3 linked regions of the Homo sapiens genome follow. The protein of the gene in region 2 interacts with the protein of the main gene of each other region in a biochemical or structural test. Each region holds a gene or a part of one and is shown on either strand. Other genes may lie near its edges.

The links. The genes of interacting proteins can lie anywhere in the genome.
Region 1: the proteins of GOLPH3L (region 2) and DIPK2A form a complex in vitro, tested with the Homo sapiens proteins (one study listed by BioGRID).
Region 3: the proteins of GOLPH3L (region 2) and TPST2 form a complex in vitro, tested with the Homo sapiens proteins (one study listed by BioGRID).

What each region holds. Positions count from the first base shown.
Region 1 is NC_000003.12:143,967,358-143,974,856, reverse strand, and holds the start of DIPK2A (divergent protein kinase domain 2A isoform a precursor), read right to left. Parts: upstream 3,035-7,499; 5' UTR 2,525-3,034; coding exon 1,868-2,524; intron 1,777-1,867; exon of another isoform or gene 1,325-1,776; coding exon of another isoform or gene 1,295-1,324; intron 1-1,294. UniProt on the Homo sapiens protein: May play a role in cardiomyocyte proliferation through paracrine signaling and activation of the PPI3K-AKT-CDK7 signaling cascade.
Region 2 is NC_000001.11:150,659,129-150,666,163, forward strand, and holds part of GOLPH3L (Golgi phosphoprotein 3-like), read right to left. Parts: intron 4,636-7,035; coding exon 4,504-4,635; intron 2,801-4,503; coding exon 2,686-2,800; intron 1-2,685. UniProt on the Homo sapiens protein: Phosphatidylinositol-4-phosphate-binding protein that may antagonize the action of GOLPH3 which is required for the process of vesicle budding at the Golgi and anterograde transport to the plasma membrane.
Region 3 is NC_000022.11:26,538,099-26,545,133, forward strand, and holds part of TPST2 (protein-tyrosine sulfotransferase 2), read right to left. Parts: intron 6,578-7,035; coding exon of another isoform or gene 6,506-6,577; intron 3,621-6,505; coding exon of another isoform or gene 3,533-3,620; coding exon 2,691-3,532; intron 1-2,690. UniProt on the Homo sapiens protein: Catalyzes the O-sulfation of tyrosine residues within acidic motifs of polypeptides, using 3'-phosphoadenylyl sulfate (PAPS) as cosubstrate.

The sequences.
Region 1 (7,499 bases), on a different chromosome or scaffold from region 2:
AATTTACCTTAGTGTAAATCAGATGCCAAAGTTTCTCAAATTCAATGCTATGACTACACTTAAAAAGAACTGGCCACATAATGTTCTTAAAATATCAATTCTACTGTTAGTTGTTACTAATACATCACTATTCAAAATTACCTAAAAAAAAAAAATCTTTCGGTAGGGACGCCAGCATTTTAAGTACAGTAAATGTATATTACTAAGACAGCTCCTTGCTAAATTTCTGGGTCTCAGAGAATTTGTCCGGGTATCTACTTCAGCAAAATGCTAACACGATCTCCAAGAACCAACCTTGCTAATACAAACAAGGTTCTCTTTTAAAGATAGCTTAATGAGAAACTTCAGTTCAAGTGTATGTACATCATAAATACAGGCTAAACCTTTAGAGACTGACTAGTTTGGGAACTACTGAATAAAGAAAATTTCTTCAAGGAAAGTTTAACCAGTTTTATGCATCCATTCAGTTAGGTGATACAGCAGTATTTAAAACACACTCTGACTTTAAAATTAACCCAATACACATAGCCTCTGATGTCCTAAAATTTACTAAGACCCACACTAAAGTTTCATCTGAAGCCAAATATTTGTGTTACATTATTTGGCTGAACTAATCAAACGAAGCTGGTTTCTTTTAAAGCTAAAATGGGCAGTGTAGAGCTTGAGAAAAGAAAATAATATAAAGAAATCTGCACTTTCCTATTCATGCATTTTAGAAAAATAAAAAAAAAAAAAACCCTGTACCTCCAGCCCTCAGTGACAGCAACCCAGAAAGAATGTGAAGTATACCAAAATTACTTGTGAACTTTTAAGTCATTTTTTTCTCTTGTCATGGAAAGGAGCACGGTAACTTTTCCTGCAGACAGAAGGAGAAACCACAACCCCACAGTTGTAATCACTGTTCAAGGACACCGCACTGAAGCTGGGTGGGAATGTGCAGAAACAAGCAAATACTCCGAAAGTAAACAGTGTTTTTGTTTTTTGTTCTCTTTTTGATGTCACCAGTAAAGATTCCATCCTATTCCCCTAAAAGGCACATTACTTTTCAAAACAGTCAGACGAGAGCAAACAACGCAACTGGCGAAAGGCAAGAATCTCCTTCCCTGATACTCGCCCTGGCCTAATATTTCATCTCCCTTCAACTAGATTACCAGATGAATAGGGCAGGTCACAGGATCAGGATGAAAACGTCTGTCTGGCCTTAAGCCCTCCCAGCCCCAAGTCCAACGCTGCCTTACTTTTCCTGTTTCTGATTCTAATCCCACCCAAAGCTCGGCTCACAGATTAAACCCACCCCGACCACTGTCCCGTTCTCCGACTTCATCCTCCCCAACTTGTCCTCGAATTAGGTGTCCAAATGACTGCCAGGTAAATGAGCGAAAACAAAGACTCTGAGACCGAAGTTAGGCCAGCCACCAGCGCCAGAAAAGGAAGAGCGAACGCGGTGTAGAACACTTCAGAAGAACTAGGAAAGGTCCAAGGGCTCGTGAACAGTCTGCGCCGCGGACCTGCAAGCCCCGGCAGATAAAAGCAGAAAGGCAGGGTAGAGAGCGGAAGGAAACTCGCAGTAGAGACATTTTGGGGAGTGTTAAGAGACGCACTCCCTCTGGCGTTGAAAGATCCACAGTCAAATCCGAAATGCGCCCGAATCTAGGTAACAAGAGCAGACTCTCCATCAGCGGGGTCGCCCTCGGCCTCCCTGCACAGCCCCGGGGCTCCCCCGGAGACGCCCCTTCCCACGCCTGCAGCCTGGCCCAGCCCGGCCGAGTCCGAACTGGCGGCAAGCGCTGGCTGAGCCACTTCTCCCGACTCTGATTCCCACGCGCGGCCCCTCCCAGGACGCCCCCTGCCCTGGCTCCGCGCCTACCTGTAGCACCAGCGGCTCGGGGTTGAAGGCCAGGGTCAGCAGCAGCTGCATGCGCTCCGAGTCCTTGAGGTTGCGAAGCAGGAAGCTGCCCGAGTCCTTGGTCTCCGCGTAGCGGCGCACCAGGCGGTCGAGAAGGCGCTGCGAGGGGCAGTGCACCAGGTCCGACCAGCCCTCCACCGCCTCGGGCGTGAGCAGACGCACGTCGCCGTTGAGGCGCGCGAACTCGGTCCGGGGCATGGCCTGCAGCAGGTCGCAGCGGGGCCGGCCGGTGGCCCGCTTGCAGATGCTCTGGTCGAGCTGCGCCAGCTCGCGCTGCGAGCCGAGGCGCTTGAGCACCACTCGGCGGCGGCCGCCCTCGCGGGGCTCGCCGTACTGCGCGAAGTACACGTTCTTCACGTTGAGGAAGTCCAGCAGGCGCAAGCGGCCCCACGCCTCGAATACCACCTGCCCGTTGAGGAAGCGGCGGCACCAGCTCGTGCCGAAGCACGCCGGGCACTTATTGAGCTGCAGGAAGCGCCGGTCGGTCAGTTCGTTGCGCTGCCAAGAGGCGAGCAGCGACGGCGAGTGCAGCACCATCAGCACCAACAGGCTGCCCAGCGCCGCCAGCTTCAGCGAGCGGGACAGGCGGCCCAGCTTCGGGGGCACCAGGCGCCACATACCGCCCGCCCGCCCGCAACGGGAGGGCGAGGGCACCCCCGGGGCGCCCCCGCCGCGCCAAGACCCGGAGAGCTACCGGCAGGAACCCCGGGCGAGAGAAGGAGCTAGCGCGCGGGCTGGGGCGGAGGGCGGAGTAGGTGTGTGAGAGAGGAAGACGGGGAGCGGGAAGGCGCGGGCCTGAGCGGGCTGCGACTTCTCCCAGTCACTAGTCTCCACAACTCTCGAGCTCCCTCCTCCTAGCTCCCCGCCCTCCGACTCCGGCGGCGCCTCCTCCACGCCAGCCAAGTTATAGAGGAGCGGGAGGGGGAGGGAGCGCGGGGACCCGACGGTCGCGCGCCCGTGCCCGCGCGCACGCGCACTGCTGGCTTCGCACAAGAGCTGCGGCGGCAGCCAGCCACGACAAGTGGGGTCTGCGAGGAAAGGAGGGACTCACGGAAGGGGAAGAGGAGCTAGGATGTCTCACACCCACAAGCAGCAACGCACGTCTCAGAGCCGCACACCCTTGCTTGTGCGCGCTGGCTCTCCTGAGACCAAGAAGGGGAGCCGGGGGCGGGGCCAGAGGGGCGGAGCGAGCGCGTCGCGCGCCGCCCGGAAAGCGTAAGCGGGAGCTCGCGGGAGCGGGTGTGGGGGCGGTTCAGAGAGGGGGAAGCTCGGGCTCTTGAGGTGGGGGCATGAACTCGCGGTTTCTGGTTTCAGAAAGAGTCTTAATTACAGTCATCTTTTATGATTATTGTGGTTTACTGGTGCGTTCCTTTCACTATTGTGGAAACGGCCCTTTAAGGGAGGAGGGAATAAGAAGAAATGAACTGAGGAAGTCTATTGCAAATCCTTCCCTCTGGACGGCGCGCGAGGCGGAGGCAGAGCTGGCGCGATTGCCTCCCCTCGCCTTATATGGGTTGGGTGCGCGCCTGGGGGGTGGGGCGAGGCCGGGGAGTGCCCGACGGGGGCTTGTGTTCCCCTCAGCTCGTGCTCCTCGCGGTAGGGGGTGGGGCCTGTGAGGAAGACGGTGAGAAAGGCTCGAGTAGTGGCGGGTTTGTTGGAGCTTCATCTTTGGGGTTGTATCTGTAAAATCATTTAAAATTTTCTTGAGTGAGCACAAAATAAAGTTCTCAAGCCACCGTGTTAAAGGGAAAATAGGATGAAGGGGAACCGACGCGGCCTGGTGTCGCCAGGACGTCTGCCCCAAGCGCCGCGAAGAAGCCGGGAAGAGTTTGCCAGGCTTGCCTCTGCTGCCCGCCGGCTGCCCTAGCCCGTCCCCGGAGCCCTGCGGTTCCTCTCCGCAAAGCTGATTTCCCGGTGCCGCCCCTGAGGGTCCCTGAGGAGCGGGCCGCGAAGCGTTGCCCTGGCGGTAGCCATGGGGACCCGGGGCTGCTTGGTGCTCCGCACGGTCACGTTGACTCAGTCACCCCAGACTGCAAAAGTAAGGCGCAGATGCCGCACGAAAGCACTGTGTTTAGGGATAAGTTTCAGGGGACCCGGACTGTTTAGCAGTAGCGCTAGTAGATACATTATTATGCTATTCACTTTTAGTGCTAGAGTAGTTAAAATGAGAAGTGATTTTTAGTCTGAGGGACAGGTGGTTCCTGATACGTTATTAAACAACTGAGTCTTAACTGAGTTAATTTTAGGGCTTGAACAGTGCTTTTAGAAGACCATGGTAACTGGCATGTGTAGATCAACTCTACAGCGGGTTAATAAGAAACATCTATACCAGGTTATCAAAAGTAACAATACTTTCAGTATTGTTTAATTGTAACAGGTATTTGTTACAAATTCTTATAAGAACTCAGATTTTGAAAAAAAAACTTTGAGAAATTTAATAAATTCAAAATAGACGTGATTTTGTAACGATTTGCATTGAATACGGACAGACAAATTGAAATAATATTCAAAGCTTTCTAGAAATTGACTTACTGTACTTAAGTTTGGCTACTTCTGCCTAGTGCCTTATGCCGCCTTTGGTGGGAATTTTATTTAACTTGCTTTCAAATATCCCCAAACTCCATATAATATAGAGTTAAAAGCTCAAGTGAGATTTTCTTAGGAAAAGGAGTTTGGTGTGATGGTTCTGGAGACCTGTGCTGTAGTTCAGCTGTGAGGCTGCTGCTGCTGCTGAATTGTAAACAAAGCAAGTTATTACTTAACTACAAATTTCTTCTTTCTGACATCTTTTCTATATGCCTCATAAATTTGTTCGATTAATAGTAGACAATCTATTTAGAATTGGTTTAAAACAATAAAAGTACTACATAAGTTGCCATTAAACTGATTAAGCTGAGAGAACCGGGGCATAGTGAGACTATTTAGGTAACTAGTAACAGGATTAAGGAGGTACCTGTACTGCTTCTTTGTATCGAATAGGTCTTTGGAGTTCTTAAACTATTCTCAGCCTCCAGATGCTTGGAATTGTATAGGCATCATTTGAAACATGGAAATAAAACACGGTTACTAGTCTACACAATTTGAATTTTGAAAAACATTTGCTCTGCATCTAAGTAGTTTACATTTGTTTAAAAGCTCTGATCTTTTCAGTTAAATTTTCTAGATGTTTATCAGGAGAGATAGTTTTCAAGAACTTAATACATTCATCAAAAGGAAAAAAGTCTTAGAACTATACAAGATAAACATATAGTGTTCCAAAGTGCCATATTAAGGTTTGCAAAATATCTCTTAATTGGGGCCAGGCACGGTGGCTCACCCCCGTAATCCCAGCACTTTGGGAGGCCGAGGCAGGCGGATCACGAGGTCAGGAGATCAAGACCATCCTGGCCAACACGGTGAAACCCTGTCTCTACTAAAAATACAAAAATTAGCCAGGCATGGCGGCGCACGCCTGTAGTCCCACCTACTCGGGAGGCTGAGGCTGGAGAATTGCTTGAACCCAGGAAGCGGAGGCTGCAGTGAGCCGAGATGGCGCCACTGCACTCCAGCCTTGGCGACAGAGCAAAAACTCCGTTTCCAAAAAAAAAAACTCTAAGTGAAGGTTAATGTGCATTACTCACCTTTCCTATAAACTACAGGATGCTTTCAACCAGTGGATCATTTAAAGTTCTTGACCATTATTTTAAGTAATGGCAAATAATGTAATTTCCAGTGCATTGTAAAATGTCATTTTACAGTAACTATCACTGTTTTAAATATTATCAGATGGAATTAAATACCATAGTAGTTTGATACTAACATCCATTTTGATAGTCAAAGTTTTACATTGTATTACTATTCTATTCTCTACTGCAGTGGTTCTCAGCAAGGGACTGTTGCCTCCCAGGGGCCAGTTGGCAATGTCTGGAGACATTTTTGATTTCATAAACTAGGGAGTGGGGTACTACTGTTGTCTAGTGGGAACATGCCAAGGATGCTGCAAAATATCCTACATTGCAAAAGACAACCCCCAACAACAAGAAATTAACCCACTCAACATCTCAATAGTGTGCTGTTGAGAAACCCTGACTAACAAGAATTCTATATAGTACGGTTTTAGGCATAAGCCTTATTGGTTATCCTTTCCTGCAGCAAAAAATATGTGTATACCGTTGTCCCTTGAACAACACAGGTTTGAATTGTACTCATACATAGATTTTTTTCAACCAAATGAGGATCAAAAATATAGTATATGCTGTATATGAAACCCAAGGACAGCTGACTTTTACTGTAAGCAGGTTCTGCAGGACTAGCTGCAGAACTTGTGTATGAGAGGATTTTGGTATACCGGGGGTCCTGGAACCAATCCCAGGTATATACCAACAGACAACTGTATTTAAATTTTGTGTATATCCTGTGATCATAATCTCCTAAATGCTAACATAGGAATTTTTTGTATGATTACAACTATAATTAGTGTTCAGCTGATCAAAATAACAAATATCCCAATTTGAATAAATATAAAAAGTAACATTTTATTGAAATGTATTTCTTAATTAGCTTGGGCATTTTTTTAAAATTAGGTTTCCATGAACAAATATTATTTATTGCTAGAATCAGACGAAGTCTAACATCAGTTTTCTCTCTTCTTCGCTTTTAGAGATGTAAGGGCCAAAACATCTTCATTTATGTTTAAAAATAAAAAGAATGTTTATATAGCAATTTCATTCATTTCTTTTTATTCCTTTTGACTAGAATCATTTACCGATAGTGATCTATCATCAGAATATTCTGAATGACATACCAATTAGGTTTTCCAAGTTAGTTGGATTTAGAAGCAAAGCATTGGAAGCCCATCCTGGAAAATGATTTTTTTACTTGGGTATTAGAATTATTTTATCATATTGACTATATTCAGTGCTCTGGCAGTCATGTCCTGAGACAGTGCACTATAGTAAGATTCAGGGTGGATAAGAGGTATTCGTTTTGTAAAGTCCAAAAAGATAATTTCCTGTATACTAAAGAACCCAGAACAGTGTCTGGTTTAAGTGGTTTGTTCCAGTAGTAGGTGGATTAACAATTGAAGGAATAAACACTTTCAGTATTATTGTAATAATCCAAACTAGAAATGATGGGTATTAGCTGGTTAAAAAAAAAAAAAAAAAAAAGCTAGCACATTCTGGATATATTGTGAACGTAGAGCTAACAAAGTTTACTCAAGATTTTAATGTGAGAGAAAGGCAAGCATCAGGTATTATGGCATGGTTTTTGTCTTAAACTATTGTAAGAATTACCATTTGTCTAAGCCCTTTGGGGCTGCTGGAACAAAAATATCTTAGACTAGTGGCTTATAAACAACAGAAATTTCTTTCTCACAGTTTTGGGGGCAAGTCCATGATCAAAGTGCTTGCAAATTTTGTGTTGGGTGTTTTCCTCATTCATAAATGTTTCTGCTGTGTCTTCGCATGGCAGAAGGGACAAGGGAATCACTCTGGGGTCTCTTTTATAAGAATACAAGTCACCTCCCAAAGGACCCACCTCCAGATACCATCACATTGAGGATTAGGGCTCAACATATGAATTATGGCACAAGGGGGTGGGGGTGCAACTGACA
Region 2 (7,035 bases):
ATAGTCTGCAGGTGTGGATCCTGACTTCTGTGAGAAGTAGCTCACCTTGACAAAGCTGCCTTTGCTTTTATTGCTTTGTAAAACAAAGAAGGGGGACGTGTTGGGAATAGGCCTCAAAAATCTGGCCATAAACTGGCCCCAAAACTGGCCATAAACAAAATCTCTGCAGCACTGTGACATGCTTGTGATGGCCTTGATGCCCATGCTGGAAGGTTGTGGGTTTACTGGAATGAGGGCAAGGAACACCTGGCCCACCCAGGGCGGAAAACTGCTTAAGGTGTTCTTAAACCACAAACAATAGCATGAGAGATCCGTGCCTTAAGGACATGTTCATGCTGCAGATAACTAGCCAGAGCCCGTCCCTTTATTTCGGCCCATCCCTTTATTTCCCATAAGGAATACTTTTAGTAAACCTTATGATTGGCTTGCTGTCAATAAATATGTGGGTAAATCTCTGTTCAAGGCTCTCAGCTCTGAAGGCTGTGAGACCCCTGATTTCCCACTCCACACTATATTTCTGTGTGTGTGTGTCTTTAATTCCTCTAGCGCCACTGGGTTAGGGTCTCCACAACTGAGCTGGTCTCGGCAAGATTAATATCCAGAATATATATAAAGAACCTCTGGCCAGGCACAGTGGCTCATGCCTGTAATCCCAGCATTTTGGGAGACCAAGATGGGTAGACTGTCTGAGCTCAGGAGTTCAGAGACCAGCCTGGGTGACATAGCAAAACCCCATCTCCACCAAAAACACAAAAAATTAGCCAGGTGTGATGGTGCGCACCCATAGTCCCAGTTACTTGGGAGGCTGAGGTGGGAGGATCCTTGAGCCCGGGAGATAGAGGTTGCAGTGAGCCGAGATTGCACCACGGCACTCCATCCTGGGTGACAGAGTGAGACCGCATCTCATAAATAAATACAAAAAAACCTCAACAACAACAAAACAATCAAACTTAAAAATGGGAAAAGTATTTTATATTTCTCCAAAGAAGATATATAAATGGTCAGTAAGCACATAAAAATATGCTCAATATTTTTAGTCATTAGGAATGACATGAAAACTATTTTCATTTGAAAATAAAAATCAAAACCACAATGAGATAACATTTTAGGCCTACTCGGATGTCTATAATTAAAAAAAAGAAAAGAAAGAGAAGAACAAGTGGTGATCAGCATGTGGACAAATTGGAACCCTGGTGCATACTGGTGGGAATATAAAATGGTGCAGTCTCTGTGGAAATGTTTGGTGATTTCTCAAAAGGTTAAACATAAAACTGCTATATGACCCAGCAATTCTATTCCTAGGTATATATCCAAAAGAATTAAAAACAGGAACTTGAACAGATATTTGTGTATCAATGTTCACAGCAGCATTATTCACAATAGCCAAAAGGTGGAAACAAGGCAAGTGTCCATCAACAGATGAATGGTTAAACGAAAGTGTTATATACATACAACGGAATATCACTCAGCCATAAACAGGAATGAAATTTTGATATATGCTGTGACATGAATGGACCTTGAAAACATTATGCTTGGTGAATAAGCTAGGGAAAGTAATGACAGATATTGTATGATTCTACTTATATGAGGTACCTAGAGTAAGCAAATTCATAGAAAAAGAAAGTAGAATAGAGGTTGCCAGGGACTGGGGGGAGAGAGAAAGAGGAAGTTATCATTTAATAGGTACAGAGTTTTAATGGGTAATGATGAGGAAGCTTTGGGTATAGTATAGATAGAGGTGACGGTTACAAAATATTGCAAATATATTTAATTTCACAGAATTGTACACTTAAGAATGGCTAAAATAATAATAAATGTTGGCTGGGCGCGGTGGCTCACGCCTGTAATCCCAGCACTTTGGGAGGCCAAGGCGGGCAGATCACGAAGTCAAGAGTTCGAGACAAGCCTGGCCAATATGGTGAAACCCTGTCTCTACTAAGAATACAAAAATTAGCCAGGCGTGGTGGCACGTGCCTGTAATCCCAGCTACTTGGGAGGCTGAGGCAGGAGAATTGCTTGAACCCGGGAGGCAGAGGTTGCAGTGAGCTGAGATTGCATCACTGTACTCCAGCCTGGACGACAGAGCAAGACTCCATCTCGAAATAATAATAATAATAATAAATGTTATGTATATTTTACCACAGTAAGAATGTTACTCGTTGATTTACATATGACCCAGTTATCTACTCCTAGCTACATACCCACAAGAAATGAAAACATGTTCAAACAAAAACTTGTCCGTGCGTGTTCACAGCAGCATTATTCACAATACCCAAAATGTGGAAATAACTCAAAGATTCATCAACTGATGACTGGATAAACAAATGTGGTATGGCCATGCAATAAAATATTATTTGGCAAATTAAAACTGGGAAATTCTAATAAGAATAATAGACTGCATCAATGCCAATATTCTCATTGTCCTCTCAATAAAGATGTTTTAAAAGTTTCTTGTGAAGAATACTATTTAAGGGCTTTTGGGGTGGGGTGGCAGAAGATAAGGTGAAGCTTTGGAAAACTTTAGGTATCAATTAACCATGCTTTTTCTGTCCCTCATTAGAATTAAATAGTGAACCACATCTATCTCATCCAGCACGATGAATTTCGGTACATCTTTTACTAAATTTCAGGGTAGGATAAAGATAACAAAGTGTGAAATTCATATATTATTTTAAGTCATCTTACCAGTGAGTAGCTCTATCCATGTTTGGACAGTTTCTGTGGGTTCAGTTGCTTTGATGTGTTTCAGAGTTTCATCCAGTAAAACATCACCTGTTGGGCTGTCTGACTTTAGCAGTACCTTTGAGAAAAGGAGAAAGAAGGAACCCTGATTCCTTCACTTCATTCAAGTTAAAATCTTTCAATATATCATGTATATGTTACTGGTTAAAAATTGCAAGAATGTAAGGAAGCATAATATACTGTCTCTGTCCTCAAGAAGTTTAAAATATAGTATGGAGTGATAGTGCAAAGACAAAAATAACATTTGAAGTGGGCCCTAGTGACAAACTGGATATGAATGATAATGGAGAAAAGTTTCAATAACAACTCATTTTGAGTCTGGAAACCAACTTTTGAAACCATTAATAAAGGTAGGAAACAGCTGGGCTCAGTGGCTCATGCCTGTAATCTTAGCACTTTGGGAGGCTGAGGCGGGTGGATCACCTGAGCTCAGGAGTTTGAGACCAGCCTGGGCAAAATGGCAAAATCTTTTCTCTATTAAAAAAATAAAAATTTAAATAAATAAATAAATAAATAAACAAAGGCAGGAAAGTCAGAAAAGGAAGTCAGTTTTGGGGAAAGGTTGATAATTTGGTTTTCTTTCATTTTTGTTAAGTTTGGTTTTAAATGATATGGGATAGCCAAGTTGAAATTTCTAGCCAATAGTTAAATATGTTTCTGGAGGTGGAAAAACAAGACCTGCCTAGAAATTTGAAAATTAATCTCATGAAGGTGACAGACGAAGCTATAAAGGTAAATGATATCTCTGAAAGGACAGAAGATCACTCAAGTGATACAAACTGAGACTTGGATGTTAAGAAATGGAGAAGTAAGGAAACAGTGTATAGTCAGAGAAGCAAGAGAATAAGATAATAACAAAGGCCAATAATGAAGAAAGTTTCAAAGTGATAAAAAGTGTCAAATGACACATATAGGTTAAAAGAGAAAAATAAATCAAAGACTGAAAAGAAGCTGGTGATACCTAAGAATGTAGTTTAAGTGGAGTGCTTAGGATGATAAAGAAGTTGTGAGTGGAAAAATTCAGTAAGAAAATGGATACAGGAGTATGGTTGGAAAGGACTTGCAGTAAATGGAAGGAAACAGAATATTATTGGAGAATAACCAGGGTTAATCAATGACTGACCTGACCCATATGAGTCCCTCTCCCTACATCATACTCTATTTCGTAATTTTTTTTTTTTAGAGACGGAGTCTTGCACTGTCCCCCAGGCTGGAGTGCAGTGGCGGGATCTTGGCTCACTGCAAGCTCCACCTTCCGGGTTCACGCCATTCTCCTGCTTCAGCCTCCCGAGTAGCTGTGACTACAGGCGCCCGCCACAATGCCCCGCTAATTTTTTTTTTAAATATTTCTCGTAGAGATGGGATTTCACCGTGTTAGCCAGGATGGTCTCAATCGCCTGACCTCATGATCCGCCCGCCTCGGCCTCTCAAAGTGCTGGGATTACAAGCGTGAGCCACTGTGCCCGGCTATTTCATAATGTTATAGCTATAGATATAGGAGGAATTTAATCAACAGCATCCTGAGTATGATTTTTCTGCATAAAAAAGGAAGACAAAACCAGGAGCTTCCTATAACTCTTTGGACTATGGATACTTTGATTTCTCCCTCTTGCAATAGGGTAATTAACCTGTTTAGACAATGGAACTGCTGAGTCAGTGATATTTATTTTATCTTACTACTCAAATCTTTCTATTCTTCCCAAATGTACTGTTGGTATTTGCCTTTCCATAAGCCATGGACGTTCACAGAGGATTCAGTACCTTTCTGTCTAGTAGTCGCTTCTTACGCATGGTCGGGGGTTCCAGATAGATTCGACCCCGCATGGCCAGCTCTATCAGGATGCCCCCTCGCAGGCCTGATGATATGCAGTCATTCCAGAAAGATGTGTACCCCTAGGAAAGGAGAAAAGAGAAGAGAAAGAATGTTTTGAGAGGAATACTGACTTCCAGCAGGCACCCTAAGAACAGGCCGCTTTGTTGTGATTCGTTTCACATCATACTACATGAACTCAAAGTATAGAGTAAGAGGATGTTTCTTTAATCCTCTTAAACACCCCCAAATATGATTTTCTGTCTGACTTCAAGATCTTTAGTGAATTTCCATGGTTTGCTGTTAGTCAATAAATGATGTGCAATTTTTTTTTTTGAGACAGGGTCTCGCTTTTTCCCCCAGGCTGAAATGCAGTGGCATGATCATGGCTCACTGCAGCCTTGACCTCCTGGGCTCAAGCAATCCTTCCACCTCAGCCTCCTGAGTAGCTGGGACTACAGGTATGTGCCACCATGCCTGGCTGTTTTTAAAAAAAATTTTTTTGTAGAGACAAGGTCTTGCTATGTTGCCTACGCTGGTCTCGAACTCCTGGCCTCAAGCTATCCTCCCACCTTGGCCTCCGAAAGTGTTGGGATTACAGACATGAGTGACTGCACCTGGTTTGACATGCAAAATTTTAATTTTTGAGGAGAATTTTGGCTTTTTTGAAGTCTGTTTCCATGACACAAAATTTCAGAGTGGGGTAAAATAAGTCAGAAAAAAGTAAAAAGCATTTGAGCTTTTAATCCTCCTAGATATGTATTAATTTGAAGTTCTTTTTTCTTTTTTTTGAGATGGAGGCTTGCTCTGTCGCCCAGGCTGGAGTGCAGTGACGTGATCTTGGCTCACTGCAACCTCCGCCTCCCAGGTTCAAGCGATTCTCCTGCCTCAGCCTCCTGAGTAGCTGGGATTACAGGTGTGCACTGCCACACCCAGCTAATTTTTGTATTTTTAGTAGAGACGGGATTTCACTATGTTGGTCAAGCTGGTCTCAAACTCCTGACCTCGTCATCCACCAGCCTCAGTCTCCCAAAGTGCTGGGAATACAGGAGTGAGCCACCGTGCCCAGCCAATTTGAAGTTCTTTTGATGGGAGGTATAATAGAAACCCACTGTCATTAAGTGCCTTGGTTATGTTACTTAAACTTTCTGAAGTACATTGTCCTCATCTATAAAATGCAGACACCAATATATATTTTCATAAGATTGTTATGAGGGTTACATGAGATACAATATATAAGAAAGCATTTAGTATAGTGCCTGGCATATAGCAGGCACTTAAAATGTTAGCTCCCCTTCCCTTTGTATAGGGAATATACGTATAAGAGAGCCACTGGTATTGTCTAACAGCAGTAACGTTTAATTACTAATGTCTATTGAATACTTATTATATACTAGATATGTGCTAATACTTATTATGTACTAGATTTGTGCTAAGCTTTTTACATGCATTATCTGATTATATCTTCACAACAACCCTATAAAGGAAGTACTACTACTACCCACACATTAAAGATGAGAAAACTAAGGCTTACAGAGGTTATACAGCATAACAGAGGTCACGAAGCTAAATAGAGAAATTTTTAAGTGGTTGTTTTTTTGGTGGTGTTTTACTGATAGATCATAGTTGTGCATATTTTGGGGTTACTTTTTTTTTTTAAGAGACAGGCGGGGTCTTGCTCCATTATCCAGGCTGAAATGCAGTGGGGCCATCATAGCTCACTGTAGACTTGAACTCCAGGGCTCAAACAATTGTCCTGCCTCAGCCTCCCAAGTAGCTCAGACTACAGGCATGAGACACTGCACCTAGCTATAATAACTATTTAAAAAATTTTTTAATTCAATTTTCCTCTTTATTGGCTTGGAAGTTATGTACTTTTAGAAGTTATCCTTGAAATTTTAACATGCATGATACATTAATTTAAAATTAACATAAAACCTAAATTTTAAATATTAATATTTTAACCACTCTTTTAGTTGTCCAGTATTTTTTTTTAGCCTCATAAATTAGATATCATCATCATCATTATTATTTTATACAGGTAGCACTTGTTTAGATTTACACAGGTGCTTACGAATTTCTTTGCTCACCGTTCCTTCCTGTATCTCAGACTTCCTTTCTGGCACCATTTTTCTTCTTCCTAAAGTAGAATTTCCTTAAGTGAAAGTCTGTTGGAGGCAGTTTCTATTTTGCTTATCTGAAATGTCTTTGTATTTCACCATCATCCTTGAAAGATAGTTTCTCTGGACATAAAATTCCAGGTTGATCATTCCAGGTTATCACATTGAAGATAGTATGCCCTCTTCTTCCAGCTTCTAATATAGCAGTGAGAAATCTATCTTTCTTATTGATTGTGGTTTTTTTGTAGGTGGTGTATCTTTTCTTTGGTCCTTTAAGATCTTCTCTTTTGGTGTTTTGCAGTTTTACTATAACATGACTGTGCATGAATTTATTTATTCTGTTTGGTATATGTTGTGCTTCCC
Region 3 (7,035 bases), on a different chromosome or scaffold from region 2:
ATGGTGGGGAACCCCCAGGATCAAGGGCCTAGTTCTAAATGTTTTCATCCCAACTAAGAGGTGACTTGGGAAAGAACAGAAAGAGGCAGCAAAAGGAAGACAAGACCGGGCGTGAGGTGAGGAGAACAGGGGAAGGTGAAAGGGTGTGGACTGGTGGGTAGAACACAGATTCAGAGGCTGCAAACCTGGATTTAAATCTTAACTCTACCCAATATGTCAAAAATCTTGAGTATGTGCATGGCTTTTGCCAAAATCCTTGTGTCTCTAGGACTTTATGGTGCAGAAATGAGGTGGACACATCCCAGAACATGAATGAGGGCAATGCTTGATACATATCAGTAAAACTGGAAATAACCGAAGTGTCCAACAATAGGGAATGTGAAGTCGAATATGGCAATCCGTGTAGCAGCCTGTCGCACAGCTATTCAAAATGATGCTGCAGGTCAGGCGCGGTGGCTCATGCCTGTAATCCCAGCACTTGGGGAGGCTGAGGCGGGCAGATCACCTGAGGTCACGAGTTCGAGACCAGCCTGGCCAACATGGCAAAACCCCATCTCTACTAAAAATATAAAAATTAGCAGAGCGTGGTGGCGGGTGCCTGTAATCCCAGCTATTTGGGAGGCTGAGGCAGGGAGAACTGCTTGAACCCGGGAGGCGGAGGTTGCAGTGAGCCGAGATCACACCACTACACTCCAGCCTGGGTGACAGAGCGAGACTCCGTCTCAACAACAAAACAACAACAAAAATGCTGCTACCAAAGAGTGCTGGCTGCCACTGGCAAGGGCTCCCACACCACCGTGGAAAAAGGCTACAGAGGAGTATGTTTCGTTGGACTCCAGTTTCATCAACAGGCCCTGAAAATGGTGCAGTAGGCCACACATCAAGATCTGGGTGGTGAGATCATGGGTTGTTTCTCCGTTCTTCTTTGGTGTATCTTTTCTAATTTTCTATAGTCAAGATGTATTACTTTGGTAATCTAATATTTTTGTCATAATAATTTATAAAATCCTAGCTCCAGCACCAACTGGCTGGGGTACCCGGCATGTAGGAACTTTGTTGCTAGCGGAGAGCAGCTGCGAGCCTCTAGCTCTGCTCTGGGCCTGGGAAGGGGCCCAGCAGGGACCAGCCATGGGAAGGACCAGCCATGGGAAGGACCACCCTTTCACTGAGCTCTCAGGCTATCCAGAGCCTGATCAGGATGGGAAAGCGTGGAAACTGCATATTCTGCTCCAGCATTGTTCAAAGTGCTCTGGGTCTCAGGATAGGGACAGCAGCTTTTCCAATGGAAGAAGGCAGGGAGCAAGGGACAGAGGGAGGAAGGAAAGGAAAGGATGAGGGGGAGTGAAGGGGAGGATGGGAGGAGTTCTGGACATGGGGAGTTTAAGAACACAATAGGCCAGGGGCCTGTAATCCCAGCACTTTGGGAGGCCAAGGCAGGAGGAAGGCTTGAGCTCAGGGGTTGGAGACCAGCCTGGAAGACATACTGAGATCTCATCTCTACTAGGAAAAAAAAAAAAAAAATGAGCTGGGTGTGGAGATGCTCGCCTGTAGTCCCAACTACTCGGGAGACTGAGGTGGGAGAATTGCTTGAGCCCAAGAGGTCGAGGCTGCAGTTAGCTGGGATCGTGCCACTGCACTCCAGCCTGGGCAACAGAGTGAAACCCTGTCTCAAAAAAACAAAAACAAAAACAAGAAAAACCCCAAAAAACAGACCTGGGTTCCAATCCCAGCACCATGCTTTGTTAGCTGTGTAGCCTGAGGCCAGTAACTTCTCCTCTGTGAGATTCAGTTTTTTGGTCTATAAAATGTGGATAAGAGGTGTTCCTATGTCCTCAGGTTGCTGTGAGGATTAAAGGAGATAAACTTGTTGGGGGCTTAACCCAATACTTGCCATACAGTAGGCACTCATTAAATGACAATGGTGAGGATGGGTACTCCATCAATAAAAGCAGTATCAACACTAAAATAGTAATAATAGCACCTAACATTTATTAACCTATTTGATGCCCACAGGTATCTATAAGGTAGGCAAATTATATTTCCATGTTACAGATGAAGCAATGGAAGCACAGGGGTTGAGTCGCTTTGCCCAGGGTCACACAGCTAAGAAGTGGCAGAGCTGAGGTTTGAACCCAGACATCCTTGTTCTGGAATCTGTGCTCTTAACCTTTACCCACTATTGCCTTACTACAAAGCATATTCAAAGTTTGCAGATTCTAGGCTGGGTGTGGTGGCTCATGCCTGTAATCCCAGGACTCTGGGAGGCTGAGGTGGAAGAACTGCTTGAGGCCAGGAGTTTGAGACCAGCCTGGGCAACAGGGCAAACCCCATCTCTACCAAAAATACAAAAATTAGCCCAGCTTGGTGGCGCATGCCTATAGTCCCAGCTACTCAGGAAGATGAGGTGGGAGGATCACTTGAACAGGGAGGTGGCGGCTGTTACTCCAGCCGGGCAACAGACCGAGACACTGCCTCAAAAAACAAACAAACAGCCCACGAAGTTTGCAGATTCTCTCAGAAAGGAGAGGAGTAATTGTTGTCATTTTTTGGGATAATGAAACGGAGGCTCAGAGAGATATAGTGACTTGCCCAAGGCCACACAGCTCAAGAAAGGCAGTGCTGATTTTCTTGCCTGGCGCCTCTGACTCCAGGGCCAGAGTCTGAGTGGAAGCATCAGGGGCTCCACTCACTTGGACAGGGAGACACCACCGGGCTTGCCAATGAGGTCTTCATGGTGGAGGACAGCGTCGCTCCAGGCGATGCCGAGGAAGTCGAGGATGAGCTTGAGTGAGCGCCTGGGGTGCAGCACCAGCTGCTCGTAGTACACAGGCAGGCACTTCTCCTTGCCTACCTCCATGCACTGGGCGTACATCACCTCGATGGCCTTGTTCCACTTGGTGAGGCAGTCACGGTAGCTGCTGAGGTCAAAGCCCGCAATGGTGACTTTGCGCGTGATCATGGAGTGCACGGAGGCCCGGCCGTCCCGCACCATCAGCAGGAACTTGGAGTTGGGGAACAGGCGCGACAGGTAGACCGAGGACTTGAGCGTAAATGGGTCCTTGTTGCAGAGCACGCGGGCCGGCTCTCCGTGCTTGGCAATCACCTCCAGGATGAAGGCCTGCATGGCGGCGTCCAGCACCTCATCCGTCACCCCCGCCTCATCCAGCCGCAGCTTCTCACGGCCAGACTTGGACCAGGCCTGGCGCATGGCCAGCACGCGCGGGATGATGCGGGTCTCCTCGCCGCAGCGCACCTCGGGGTGCGCGTCCAGCATGGCGCGCATCAACGTGGTGCCACTGCGAGGCACGCCACCCACGAAGATGAGCGGCATGGCCTTGCCATAGCGGTATTCCACGTGGTTGGTGCCCACCATCACCAGCTCCTCCTGCTCAGGCCGCATGGCCCCCCGGGGGCTCCGCAGGCCCGCCAGCACCGCCCGGCACTCTAGCACCTGCTGTCCCAGCTGAACCGCCAGCACCAGGACCAGGGCGCAGCCGGCTGCCAGCAGCACCCTCCGCACCGACAGGCGCATGCTGGGCCGGAGGCAGGGTAGGCCTGGCCTGAGGGCCCGCTTCTGGGGCTTCAGCGACAGGTTAGCGGGCAGCCCGCCAGGCTCACATCTGGGGAGAGAGGGGGACATGCATAGTCAGGGAGGTCTGTGAGCTGTGAGCTCTCCAATAACTGCAAAGCCCTATAACTGCAAACAAGAGGCTGCTGACATGAATGCAGAGGGCACCTTTCATAAGCACTAGCTGTGTGCCTGGCACCCTGCTGGGCACTTTTTTCAATTTTTTTTGTTTTTTTAAAGAGATGGGGTCTCACCATGTTTCCCAGGCTGCTCTTGAACTCGTGGGCCTGGGTGATCCTCCTACCTGTCTCCCAAAGTGATGGGATTACAGGCATGAGCCACCCGGTCCAGCGGATCATGAGGTCAGGAGATCGAGACCATCCTGGCTAACACGGTGATATCCCATCTCTACTAAAATACAAAAAATTAGCTGGGCATGGTGGCGGGCGCCTGTAGTCCCAGCTACTCGGGAGGCTGCGGCAGGAGAATGGCGTGAACCTGGGAGGCAGAGCTTGCAGTGAGCCTAGACTGCGCCACTGCACTCCAGCGTGGGCGACAGAGCGAGACTCCGTCTAAAAAAAAAAAAAAAAAAGGCTGGAGTGCATTGAGTGGTGAGAGATCATAGCTCACTGCGGCCTCGGACTCCTGGGCTCAAGCAATCCTCTGCCTCAGCCTCCCAAGTACCTGGGACTACAGGCACACACCACCGCACCTGGCTAATTTTTAGAAACAGGGTCTCGCTTCAAGTGATCCTCCCGCCTCAGCCTCCCAAAATGATGGGATTACAGGCATGAGTTACCCCATCTGGCCCAAGAATATTAGTGATTTCTATCATAATCATTGGTTATTTACTTATTCCAACATTTAATGAGCACCTGCTATGTGCTGGGAGCCTCAGCCTCCAAAGTCTACTCTTACCATGGACCTGTGCCTGAGAGAGATTGATGGGTTCTACCTGCGTAGGTGAGGGAAGGCCTCCTGCAGGAGGTAGCCTTCATGCAGAATTTTCAGTGGTGGGTAGGAAACAGGCAGGTGGAGAAGGGAAACAAGGATGTTACCAGCAAAGGGAATAGCCAGCGCAGAGCCACAGGCAGGAAAGGATGCAGCACGACTGGGGAACTGCAAGTGACTTAGTGAACGGAGGGTTTGGTGGAAGCCAGTGGGAAGACAGCATGCCTCTTTGGATGTGAGGTTCCACCCAAAACCACCCAAGGGCCCAGTCTGCAGCTGGGCCTATCCACCTGCAAGGGCTTGGGCTGCCTGGGCCTTCTTAGGCTATAGCAAGTGGAAAATAAACATCAAAGCGGAGGGAACACAGTCTCAGGCCTGGGGTGGAAACTGCTAAGAGGCTAGGACTTCCTGGCCATGTGGCTTGGGAGAGTCACTTCCCTCATCTTAGCCACAGTCTCTTCAGCTGCAAAATCAGGGTGGATCCACTGACCTCAGAGGCTGCTGTGAAAATATGAGAAGCAGCTGACAAACCAGAGATGGATCTCAGGCTGGGGTCACCGGCCTCTCTGTGCATTGGATAATTTCCCTCTCTTCAGAAAAACGTGCTGATGAAGTTCTGCTGAAGAGGTTGGGGCTTCATTTGTACCCTCGATTCAGGGTCTGTGATGGAGAAAGCTAATTCAGAGCTACTTCCTGCGGGGAGGCAGGCTGAACAGGACATGAAGCCATTCCGAAATCCCTGCAACGACCCTTTGTCTTCATCAGGTGCTCAGTGAAATTCTCCCCTGAGACCTGTGACCAGAATCCTGTCAGTTATTAGGATTTCAGTGACAGCATCCCCACCTTGGCTGATTTTTTTGTGTGTTTTTAGTAGAGATGGGGTTTCACCATGTTAGCCAGGCTGGTCTCGAACTCCTGACCTAAGGTGATCTGCCCGCCTCAGCCTCCCAAAGTGCTGGGATTACAGGTGTGAGCCACCGCACCCGGCCAGCTTCAGCATTTTATGTTCAGCAAAGGTGTTCGAAATTATGGAGCATAAACTCTGCTAAAGCATTTTCCCTGCAGTATCTAAGCTCAAAGAGATGAAGCAGCTTGCCCAAGGTTGCATGGCCAGGGCAGGAATCCTGGATCAGACCAGGCCAAGGCTGAAGAAAACAGCTCAAAGCAGGCAAGTCAGAAGTGAGCAGAAGACAGCAATGACCTGCACGATGGCTTAAGAAGAAAAAGCAGGGTGACTTGGGACACAGAAAGCAGCCTGGAACCCACAAAGCAGAAAGTAGCTTCCTGGTTACCCAGAGCTAGGGACCCCACTGTGGAAGGAGCTAGAGGGCCCAGCCCAGGGAACTAGGCCTGCCCAACACCCTCATCACCCTGCTGGACCCTGGCAAGGGAGGTATCCTGGCATCCTCGCAGTGAGGATGATAGGTGAGGGCTTCTAACTTGGAGTACTACACTCCAAGGTTCAAATCTCACTTCTGCTGCCACTTGCCAGCTGGTGATCTGGACAAAAGGTATCACTTCTCTGAGCTTCTACTTTCTTCTCCAAAAAAGGAATAATAATACCCTTTTCTCAAGGAAGCTATTCAGAAGGCCAAGGAACTCCTGTGGGGTACTGAGAAAGCATACCTAAAACACTAACATTAGGAGAACGGGACACAACAGCGTTTGGGTTCTGGCTTGAATCTGCTCCGTGACACTGGGCAAGTCCCCCGCCCACTTTGGGACTCAGCCTTCTCTCTCCTATCACCTGGAGAATCGTCTTCCTAATAGACAAGGAAGATGCTCATCTCTCTATGATGCTTGCTGGGATGCAGCTTTTTCTAGTACCAGATTTCCAACCTGCTGGCTGAACAGAAAGGTGAAAACCAGCCAGGGGAGTTTGCCCAGGCACCCAATCATGGAGGCTGGGGGCATGGAGGGGACTTTTGGAGGGCGGTCTCAGGAGGGGCCAGGACTCCAGGGGAAGTTCCTTCTAGGTGCACTTACCTCCCTTGGGCACTCTCATCTCTGGGCTCCAGCCCTTGTGCCTGTGTGCCAAGGCTGTCTGCTGGCAGAGCCCTGGAGAGGCAAAGGAGATATTGCATCAGGGATGGGCACTGTGGAGAGGGGCCAAGCCTTCAAAGAGGCAGAGTGAGGGTTTAGGCTCCCAAGAGCACTGGACAGTGACATTTGGGAGAAGGACTCTGGAATGCAGGGGAGGCTGCTTCAGCTCAAGATACCACAGCTGGAGTCTCAACTTATCTACTCCTACAGGGAATGAACTGGCTCACTTCTTAGGCAGAGAGGTGTGAGCTGAAGTCTGAGCTAAGGCGCCGCTGCCTTAGGGAGCCCCTGGTTTATGCCAACCAGGCCTCTCCCCTCCTCTTGGCCTAGGGACCTTGGACTCCAGGAAAAGTAAATATAACAATAAGCAACAACAACCACCACTACACACCACTATTGCCACCTGAGATGGCTGGGTATGGTTGATCAGGTTGTGGACTGCACAATTCCAAATGGTACCACAGGCCCAGCCT